Regions from separate parts of the Homo sapiens genome. Here region 1 is linked to region 2. The links come from fine-mapping of genetic effects on gene expression. A gene starts in region 2. The other region holds a variant in brackets. All regions are shown on one strand. Distances are from middle to middle.

Region 1 (5,374 bases), 260 kb after region 2:
CGGGTACTGCGCTCACTACCTTGATGATGAGATCATTCATACACCAAGCCTCAGTGACACACACTGTACTCATGTAACAAACCTGTACATATACCCCCTTAACCCAAAATAAAACTAGAAAAAAAAGAAGAGCAATCTCAAATAAGCAACCTAACTTTACACGTCAAATTACTATAAAGACAACAAATAGATATGGATAGCATTGAATCTATAAATTACTTTGGGCAGTATGGCCATTTTCACACTAAGCAAAAAGAACAAACTGGAGGCATCATGCTACCCGACTTCAAACTATACTACAAGGCTACAGTAACCAAAACAGCATGGTACTCGTACCAAAACAGATAAATAGACCAGTGGAACAGAACAGAGGCCTCAGAAATAACACCACACATCTACAACTATCTGATCTTTGACAACCCTGACAAAAACAAGAAATGGGGAAAGGATTCCCTATTTAATAAATGGTGATGGGAAAACTGACTAGCCATATGCAGAAAACTGAAATTGGACCACTTCCTTACACCTTATACAAAAATTAACTCAAGATGGATTAAAGACTTAAACCTAAGACCTAAAACCATAAAAACCCTAGAATAAAACCTAGGCAATATCATTCAGGACATAGGCATGGGCAAAGACTTCATGACTAAAACACCAAAAGCAATGGCAACAAAAGCTAAAATTGACAAATGGGATCTAATTAAACTAAACAGTGTCTGCATAGCAAAAGAAACTATTTTCAGAGTGAACAGACAACCTACAGAATGGGAGAAAAATTTTGCAATCTATCCATCTGACAAAGGGCTAATATCCAGAATCTACAAAGAACTTAGATAAATTTACAAGAAAAAAACAAACAACCCCATCAAAAAGTGGGCAAAGTATATGAACAGACACTTTTCAAAAAAAGACATTTATGCAGTCGCAAACATATGCAAAAAAGCTCATCATCACTGGTCATTAGAGAAATGCAAATCAAAACCACAATGAGATACCATCTCACGCCAGTTAGAATGGCAAACATTAAAAAGTCAGGAAAGGTGGGGAGGAGCCAAGATGGCTGAATAGGAACAGCTCTGGTCTACAGCTCCCAGTGTGAGCGACGCAGAAGATGGGTGATTTCTGCATTTCCATCTGAGGTACCGGGTTCATCTCACTAGGGAGTGCCAGACAGTGGGTGCAGGTCAGTGGGTGCATGCACCATGCGTGAGCCAAAGCAGGGCGAGGCATTGCCTCACTCAGGAAGTGCAAGGGGTCAGGGAGTTCCCTTTCCTAGTCAAAGAAAGGGGTGACAGACGGCACCTGGAAAATCAGGTCACTCCCACCCAAATACTGTGCTTTTCCAACAGGCTTAAAAAACAGCGCACCAGGAGATTATATCCCGCGCATGGCTCGGAGGGTCCTATGCCCATGGAGTCTCGCTGATTGCTAGCACAGCAGACTGAGATCAAACTGCAAGGTGGCAGCAACGCTGGGGAAGGGGCGCCCGCCATTGCCCAGGCTTGCTTAGGTAAACAAAGCAGCCAGGAAGCTCCAACTGGGTGGAGCCCACCACAGCTCTAGGAGGCCTGCCTGCCTCTGTAGGCTCTACCTCTGGGGGCAGGGCACAGACAAACAAAAAGACAGCAGTAACCTCTGCAGACTTAAATGTCCCTGTCTGACAGCTTTGAAGAGAGCAGTGGTTCTCCCAGCATGCAGCTGGAGATCTGAGAACTGGCAGACTGCCTCCTCAACTGGGTCCCTGACCCCTGACCCCCGAGCAGCCTAACTGGGAGGCACCCCCCAGCAGGGGCAGACTGACACCTCACATGGCCGGGTACTCCAACAGACCTGCAGCTAAGGGTCCTGTCTGTTAGAAGGAAAACTAACAAACAGAAAGGACATCCACACCAAAAACCCATCTGTACATCACCATCATCAAAGACCAAAAGTAGATAAAACCACAAAGATAGGGAAAAAACAGAGCAGAAAAACTGGAAACTCTAAAAAGCAGAGCACCTCTCCTCCTCCAAAGGAACGCAGTTCCTCACCAGCAATGGAACAAAGCTGGACAGAGAATGACTTTGACGAGCTGAGAGAAGAAGGCTTCAGACGATCACATTACTCTGAGCTACCGGAGGACATTCAAACCGAAGGCAGAGAAGTTGAAAACTTTGAAAAAAGTTTAGAAGAATGTATAACTAGAATAACCCACACAGAGAAGTGCTTAAAGGAGCTGATGGAGCTGAAAACCAAGGCTCGAGAACTACGTGAAGAATGCAGAAGCCTCAGGAGCCAATGCGATCAACTGGAAGAAAGGGTGTCAGCAATGGAAGATGAAATGAATGAAATGAAGCGAGAAGGGAAGTTTA[A/G]AGAAAAAAAGAATAAAAAGAAATGAGCAAAGCCTCCAAGAAATATAGGACTATGTGAAAAGACCAAATCTACATCTGATTGGTGTACCTGAAAGTGACGGGGAGAATGGAACCAAGTTGGAAAACACTCTGCAGGATATTATCCAGGAGAACTTCCCCAATCTAGCAAGGCAGGCCAACATTCAGATTCAGGAAATACAGAGAACGCCACAAAGATACTCCTCGAGAAGAGCAACTCCAAGACACATAATTGTCAGATTCACCAAAGTTGAAATGAAGGAAAAAATGTTAAGGGCAGCCAGAGAGAAAGGTCGGGTTACCCTCAAAGGGAAGCCCATCAGACTAACAGCAGATCTCTCAGCAAAAACTCTACAAGCCAGAAGAGAGTGGGGGCCAATATTCAACATTCTTAAAGAAAAGAATTTTCAACCCAGAATTTCATATCCAGCCAAAATAAGCTTCATAAGTGAAGGAGAAATAAAATACTTTACAGACAAGCAAATGCTGACGAATTTTGTCACCACCAGGCCTGCCCTAAAAGAGCTCCTGAAGGAAGCACTAGACATGGAAAGGAACAACCGGTACCAGCCACTGCAAACTCATGCCAAAATGTAAAGACCATCGAGACTAGGAAGAAACTGCATGAACTAACGAGCAAAATAACCAGCTAACATCATAATGACAGGATCAAATTCACACATAACAATATTAACTATAAATGAAAATGGACTAAATTCTCCAATTAAAAGACACAGACTGGCAAATTGGATAAAGAGTCAAGACCCATCAGTGTGCTGTATTCAGGAAACCCATCTCACGTGCAGAGACACACATAGGCTCAAAATAAAAGGATGGAGGAAGATCTACCAAGCAAACGGAAAACAAAAAAAGGCAGGGGTTGCAATCCTAGTCTCTGATAAAACAGACTTTAAACCAACAAAGATCAAAAGAGACAAAGAAGGCCATTATATAATGGTAAAGGGATCAATTCAACAAGAAGAGCTAACTATCCTAAATATATATGCACCAAATGCAGGAGCACCCAGATTCATAAAGCAACTCCTGAGTGACCTACAAAGAGACTTAGACTCCAACACATTAATAGTGGGAGATTTTAACACCCCACTGTCAACATTAGACAATTCAATGAGACAGAAAGTCAACAAGGATACCCAGGAATTGAACTCAGCTCTGCACCAAGCAGACCTAATAGACATCTACAGAACACTCCACCCCAAATCAACAAAATATACATTTTTTTCAGCACCACACCACACCTATTCCAAAATTGACCACATACTTGGAAGTAAAGCTCTCCTCAGCAAATGTAAAAGAACAGAAATTATAACAAACTATCTCTCAGACCACAGTGCAATCAAACTAGAACTCAGGATTAAGAATCTCATTCAAAACTGCTCAAATACATGGAAACTGAACAACCTGATCCTGAATGACTACTGGGTACATAACGAAATGAAGGCAGAAATAAAGATATTCTTTGAAACCAACGAGAACAAAGACACAACATACCAGAATCTCTGGGACGCATTCAAAGCAGTGTGTAGAGGGAAATTTATAGCACTAAATGCCCACAAGAGAAAGCAGGAAAGATCCAAAATTGACACCCTAACATCACAATTAAAAGAACTAGAGAAGCAAGAGCAAACACATTCAAAAGCTAGCAGAAGGCAAGAAATAACTAAAATCAGAGTGGAACTGAAGGAAATAGAGACACAAAAAACTCTTCAAAAAATTAATGAATCCAGGAGCTGGTTTTTTGAAAGGATCAACAAAATTGATAAACCGCTATCAAGACTAATAAAAAAAGAGAGAAGAATCAAATAGACGCAATAAAAAATGATAAAGGGGATATCACCACTGATTCCACAGAAACACAAACTACCATCAGAGAATACTACAAACACCTCTACGCAAATAAACTAGAAAATCTAGAAGAAATGGATAAATTCCTCAACACATACACTCTCCCAAGACTAAACCAGGAAGAAGTTGAATCTCTGAATAGACCAATAGCAGGCTCTGAAATTGTGGCAATAATCAATAGCTTACCAACCAAAAAGAGTCCAGGACCAGATGGATTCACAGCTGAATTCTACCAGAGGTACAAGGAGGAACTGGTACCATTCCTTCTGAAACTATTCCAATCAACAGAAAAAGAGGGAATCCTCCCTAACTCATTTTATGAGGCCAGCATCATCCTGATACCAAAGCCGGGCAGAGACACAACCAAAAAAGAGAATTTTAGACCAATATCCTCGATGAACTTTGATGCAAAAATCCTCAATAAAATACTGGCAAACCGAATCCAGCAGCACATCAAAAACCTTCTCCACCATGATCAAGTGGGCTTCATCCCTGGGATGCAAGGCTGGTTCAATATATGCAAATCAATAAATGTAATCCAGCATATAAACAGAACCAAAGACAAAAACCACATGGTTATCTCAATAGATGCAGAAAAGGCCTTTGACAAAATTCAACAACCTTCATGCTAAAAACTCTCAATAAATTACGTATTGATGGGACGTATTTCAAAATAATAAGAGCTATCTATGACAAACCCACAGCCAATATCATACTGAATGGACAAAAACTGGAAGCATTCCCTTTGAAAACTGGCACAAGACAGGGATGCCCTCTCTCACCACTCCTATTCAACATAGTGTTGGAAGTTCTGGCCAGGGCAATTAGGCAGGAGAAGGAAATAAAGGGTACTCAATTAGGAAAAGAGGAAGTCAAATTGTCCCTGTTTGCAGACGACATGATTGTATATCTAGAAAACCCCATTGTCTCAGCCCAAAATCTCCTTAAGCTGATAAGCAACTTCAGCAAAGTCTCAGGATACAAAATCAATGTACAAAAATCACAAGCATTCTTATACACCAACAACAGACAAACAGAGAGCCAAATCATGAGTGAACTCCCATTCACAATTGCTTCCAAGAGAATAAAATACCTAGGAATCCGACTTACAAGGGATGTGAAGGACCTCTTCAAGG
Region 2 (5,374 bases):
TTAGTAGAGACGGGGTTTGACCATGTTGGTCAGGGTGGTCTCGAATTCCTGACCTCAGTTGAGCCGCCGGCCTCGGCCTCCCAGGAAGTGCTGGGATTACAGGCATGAGCCACCAGGCCCGGCCTTATTGTTTCTATTTGTAATAAATCTGTTCCCCTTGCTGCTGTCTCTGCGTTAGTTCTCCTCATTTCTAGCTTGGGTGCTGCAGCAGCCTCTGACCGGTCCTTCTGTCTCCAGCCTGACTGCGTTTTCTCGCACCTGCTGGGCTGTCTTAGGGCCCCGATGCCGGTGGCGTTTGCCATTCTCCGTCTGCCTGAGGCGTCCTCCCTCCGTCATCTGACAGGCAAATGTTACAGCCCTTCAAGACTTAGGCATTACCTTTCCCGCGCGGCCTTCCCTTCACTGTGCCTTACAATCTTCTCCATGGCAGGACATAGTGAAACTCCGTCTCTACCACTCCGTCAGTACCTGCCACAGGAAATGGCGGGTTTACGGATTTGTTTATAAGTTTATTTCCCCAATTGGTTGTTTTTCCATCTTGCGGGGTTTACATCGTCTCCTCCTCACTTGCGTGGCAGCCTGGACGCATCTCTATCACAGCACATTACCTCGTTTCGTGACCACAGCGTAGTCTCTTCCCCATCCTCAGACTGAGTTAGGGCCCCTTTGAGTCAGGTATTTGCCTTGCTAATCTTTGTGCCCTCTGTGTCTAATACGGTGCTTGGTCCTGGTAGATTTCTCCTTGCTTGCATAACATGTGTCTTCCTGGCTTATTCGATTTCTGGAAGTCTAGAACTTCTCCCCAGTGTTTCACCTGCCTGCTGAGTCAGGGCTCTCGGCCCGCTGGGGAGCATTTTGCTGCACTTGTCATTAGCCACAAAGCCACTAGGGGGCAGGGAGCCCCCATCCTGCCTCAGATCGGTGCCAAACCAGAACCCGGCAGCCTGCCTTCTGCACGGAAATCAATTCTCTAGGAGCTGATTTGCTGAAAGATCATTTTGCAAAATGGTCAACTCAGCAAATAATCGACTTGCTGAATCTTTGAGGAGTTATTTGCAGCTTCAGTTTTACTTAGAGCAATCCCTGGATGCTTAATATTTCATTTAAGAATGAGTGAGCCTTTTCTTCTCTATTTTGGGGAAACAGTTTCTTGCTGAGCCTCTGCCTCTGTTAGTACCCCAGCGGGGATGAACTGCAGTACCTGGCTTCGGGTTTTTGTCTTTTCATTATAATGAGTTGGTTTTATGTGCGTTGACCTACTGTAAAGGAAGGGTGGGGTTCTTCCAAAATAGATCCTCTTTCAATGAGGAGACAGGTAGAGTGGGACATGGGAAGGGCTTTGTCAGCTTTCCCCATCAAGATGTGTCCTGTGTGTCCCCAAAGCTCTTCTTGAGCCATCCCAGCATAACCAGGGTTTCCCTCAGGTTCATAACAAGGTAGAGCAGTCCTCAAGGCTGGCGCATGAAGACCAGTCCAGGGGGAGGGTGGATCCCTCGGGATGTGATAGGCTGACAGCAGCTCCCCAAAGCCTGTGGTTTTGACTACTGTAGAGACTTCATATCTGAAGCATGCCCCTCTACTTCAGCCACCCCCACTGCTCCTCCTTCTGCGGGGTCCCTTTGGAAAGCTTAGCACCACCTCAGACATTTGGAAAACTAACTTGAGCTCCAGTCCCTCGAGGCCCTAGCCTCTGCATCCTGTGAAGAGGGCCCTGCTGTGCAGAGCGCAGAGGGTCCCGCACTCACTTGGATGAACCTCTAGGGCATTCTGCTCAGTCTCAGGAGGGCAGACACTGTGGGACTCCACTCACATGAGTATCTGACGTTGCCAAAAATCATAGAAACAGGCCGGGTGTGGTGGCTCACACCTGTAATCCCAGCGCTTTGGGAGGCTGAGGCAGGTGGATCACTTGAGGTCAGGAGTTCAAGACCAGCCTGGCCAACATGGTGAAACCCCGTTTCTACTAAAAATACAAATATTAGCCGTGTGTGGTGGCGGGAACCTGTAATCCCAGCTACTCGGGAGGCTGGGGCAGGAGAATTGCTTGAACTCGGGAGGTGGAGGTTGCAGTGAGCCGAGATCACACCATTGCACTCCAGCCTGGGCGACAGAGCAAGACTCTGTCTCAAAAAAAAAAAAAAAATCATAGAAACGGAAAGTAGAACGGTGGTTACCCGGGCTGGGGTTCGGGGAGGTGAGTTGGGGTGTAATGGGGAGAGTTTGGGTGCTGCAGGATGAAAAGTCCTGCAGATCTGGCACACAACCATGTGAATGTACTTTCTACTGTGGGCTATACACTTAGAAATGGTTAGGATGGTACTATTAATGTTACATCATTTTTACCCTAGTAAACATTTTTTAAGAAGTCTTCCTCCGTGTTTGACTTCCTTATGAAGTAGAGACCAGGTAGTTTGGACACTATGTTCTTTCACAAAAGGGATTTCATTTTGTGAAATATTTGAAAGCATCGAAGTCTAGCATTTCACGTTTTGCAAGCTGGGGAAAAGCATTCATTCCCTGAGAAGCAGCGTTGGTCTGTCAGGCTTGGAGTTCCCCGGGTTGTGGGTTTTAGGGAAGGGAAGGGAAGCGAGGAAGGACTTGTGAGAGGAAGTCCTAAAGGCCACTTAAGGGCACACAGAGGCCCGGAGCTGGCTTTGCTCAGAGCTTGTAGCGGCGCCACAATCTCTGTCCTCTCAGGAACAGGAACTGGCTTGACGTCCTTTTCCTGCCCTATCCAAGCCCCTGTTCTTGCAGCCCTTCTGAAGCTCAGCCTGGCACCGGCCCCGGCGCCCCAGCCCCTGGCCAAGCCTCTGCTGTCATTTCTCCTCCCTCCTCTCAGTCTGCAGCTGCGGGACGGGCCGGGCTCCTCAGTTTCTGCTGTGTTGTGACCCCACGAGGCGCTCAGCACCCAGGGAAGGCGCGTGTGTCCCCGATGCTGGCTCCTCCCTGAGCCCCGACGGCTCTCGAGGTTCTGAGCCTGTGGCCTGCACAGGGAACTTCCTCTCCGACTGCATTTATGCCTCTGTGGATGTGAAGGCTATTTCTAGAAATCTCTTCCTTTGCAGAAACACCCGAAACCCTCCTGCCAGGAAGACCAGGGCCTGGGAAGAGGGTCGCTCTCCGGCCATTCTCCCCTCACCCTCCTCACCTTCCTCACATCCTGTGCCCTGGGGGACCAGCAGCTGCTTCCACCCAGGTGAGAGATGGAGGGATAGAGCCAGGTGGATTGCGGAGCCTCGGAGACTGTGGGACGCCGTGGGACCCCATGGGACACGACCGCAGTGCATGTGTGACATGTGCACTCGTGTGTAGATGTGTGTGCACTGGTGCATGGCTGTGGGGGAGGATGGGCTTGGCACCGGGAAGGCAGCCTGCTCAGCCATGGGAGAGGAGGCTGGGTTGAATGGCAGGGTTGAATGGCAGAGTTGAATGGCAGGGGCCCTGGGAAGCTTTCCTCCTGGTCCAAAGCGTGTCTCCCCAGCCTGCTGGGGAGTAGATTCGGCAGGATGGGGACAGAGGCATATTCCCAGACATCTATGAGAGTGGCTGTCCTAAAAGAAGGCGTGTCGGGGAGTGGGTGTGAGCCCTGAAGAGGAGGAGGGCTGAGACTGGCAGAAGGGAGGAAGAAGCAGGCGGAAGCAGCCGGTCAGATGCCCCATGAAGCTAGATGGTGCCGCAGAGCAGCCCCCAGGAGGAAGCCAGCGGAGCTCCTCCCGCAAAGCAGGGGGTGGGGGATGCTGATTTTTCCACGTCTGCTTTTCTGATCTTTCCTGCCCCTTGCACAGTTAGGATTCTGTGAACTGGGCATTGGAGGGATTGGAGGGGTCAAGACCTTACCAAAAGCAATATTTCTGATTTCACCTACATTTCAGCCAACCTGGTCCTCAGCAGTTAACCTCTTCCCTTCCTCTTGATGGTTGCCCTGCTGGGCTGGGTCTAAGGTCTTCCCCACGCTGGGCTCTGGAGGCATCTCCAACCACCCTGCTCTGTAAGTGGGAACTGCGATTAGATGTGGGATGAATCCCCGCATGGCTGGATGCTGTGCTCAGATGCCTGAGTCCACGTTTGCCTTGGGCTGTTTCCTGAGAAGGAGGCAGAGGCTGCCTTTACAGTCTTCAGTGAATTATAGGAAGAACGCTCTCTTTTTCTCTCAGTTGCTCTGCTGGGGTCTCCAGAGTGGCCTGGGAAATTGAGCAGAGGGAAATGTGGGCTGGCAGAGCGTGAGTGAGGGTGAGTTTGGGTACCTTTTTGTCCTTAAGTGCACTTTCTACATGTTGGGGTGAAGTGCTACTGGCTGGGAAGCTGTATGTGTGGTAGGAGTGTGCATGTGCGTGTGTGTATGTGGGTGTGTGTGTGTAGGTCCTGACATCATGTGGAGCTGCAGGCAGGAGTCCAGCCAAGACTCATTGGTTTGGTCATACTCTGCTGGGGAACCATGCAAGGCTGTGTCGCTTAATTGGGAAAGAAATTTCTTTCTTCTTCAGACCTGTGGGAGGCCTCTGCTTCCTTCAGCTTGCTGTTTTCTCACTAGTGTCTTTTTTTCTTAAATTAATTTACAGAGACATCTCACTTCACTTGCATATATATGTGTGTGTGTATGTATATATGTATATATATGTATATATGTATGTATATATGTATATATGTGTATATATGTATATATATGTGTGTATATGTGTGTGTGTGTGTGTGTGAGATATATATATATATATATATATATATATATATATACATGCGAGTGGAACTACAGGCACCCACCACCATGCCTGGCTAATTTTTGTACTTTTAATAAAGACGGGGATTTCATCATGTTGACCAGGCTGGTCTCAAACTCCTGATCTCGAGGGATCTACCTGCCTTGGCCTCTGAAAGTGTTGGGGTTACAGGCGTGAGCCACTGCGCCCGGCCTCCCTCTCAGTTCTAAAAACCGTTTTTCTTCTTTTCTTCACATTTCTGTCTCTCCTGTGATCGTTCATTCCTTTACCTCCACGTATTGGGCATATACTACATGCCAGGCACAATGTTAGGGCCTGGGGACACAGAACAAAACAGGCATGTTTGGAGTTTCAGCACATGCTGTTATGGAGCTTTGTACCAAGGGTAGTACAGAGAACATTTAGACATTTAAAAATAAAATTAATAAATAATTATAAAATATAAATAATATCAGATAGAATCAATGTTATGAAGAAAATTGAGGAGAGAGAGGAGATAGGGCATTAGTGTGAGAGCTTCTCTCCATAGGGTGTATCTGGGTGAAAGATGCTCTTAGAAGATCCCCGGTGCTGATTAGGTTTGAACCCACCGGAAATATTTTTCCCCTGGTGGACCGGTTCTGAGGTTCTGAGGTGTCTGAAGCTGCGGTGGGCTCTGC

What was found. PIP is the estimated chance that this variant, and not a neighbour inherited with it, causes the effect. A credible set is the group of variants that fine-mapping cannot tell apart.
Region 1: its variant is the best candidate, but not a certain one, in a credible set for the expression of GIMAP8 in unexposed skin (GTEx, PIP 0.78).

Annotation. Positions count from the first base shown.
Region 1 is chr7:150,705,194-150,710,567 of GRCh38, forward strand. No RefSeq gene overlaps it. Among named protein-coding and RNA genes, the nearest start is that of GIMAP1, 8.7 kb to the right of the region's middle. RefSeq lists an enhancer at 1,446-1,945. The variant A/G (reference allele first, on the strand shown) is at 2,355.
Region 2 is chr7:150,447,980-150,453,353 of GRCh38, forward strand. GIMAP8 (GTPase, IMAP family member 8) reads left to right here and starts at 2,651. Exons shown (of 5, transcript NM_175571.4): 1 at 2,651-3,196. LINC00996 (long intergenic non-protein coding RNA 996) reads left to right here. Exons shown (of 4, transcript NR_034033.1): 4 at 1-161.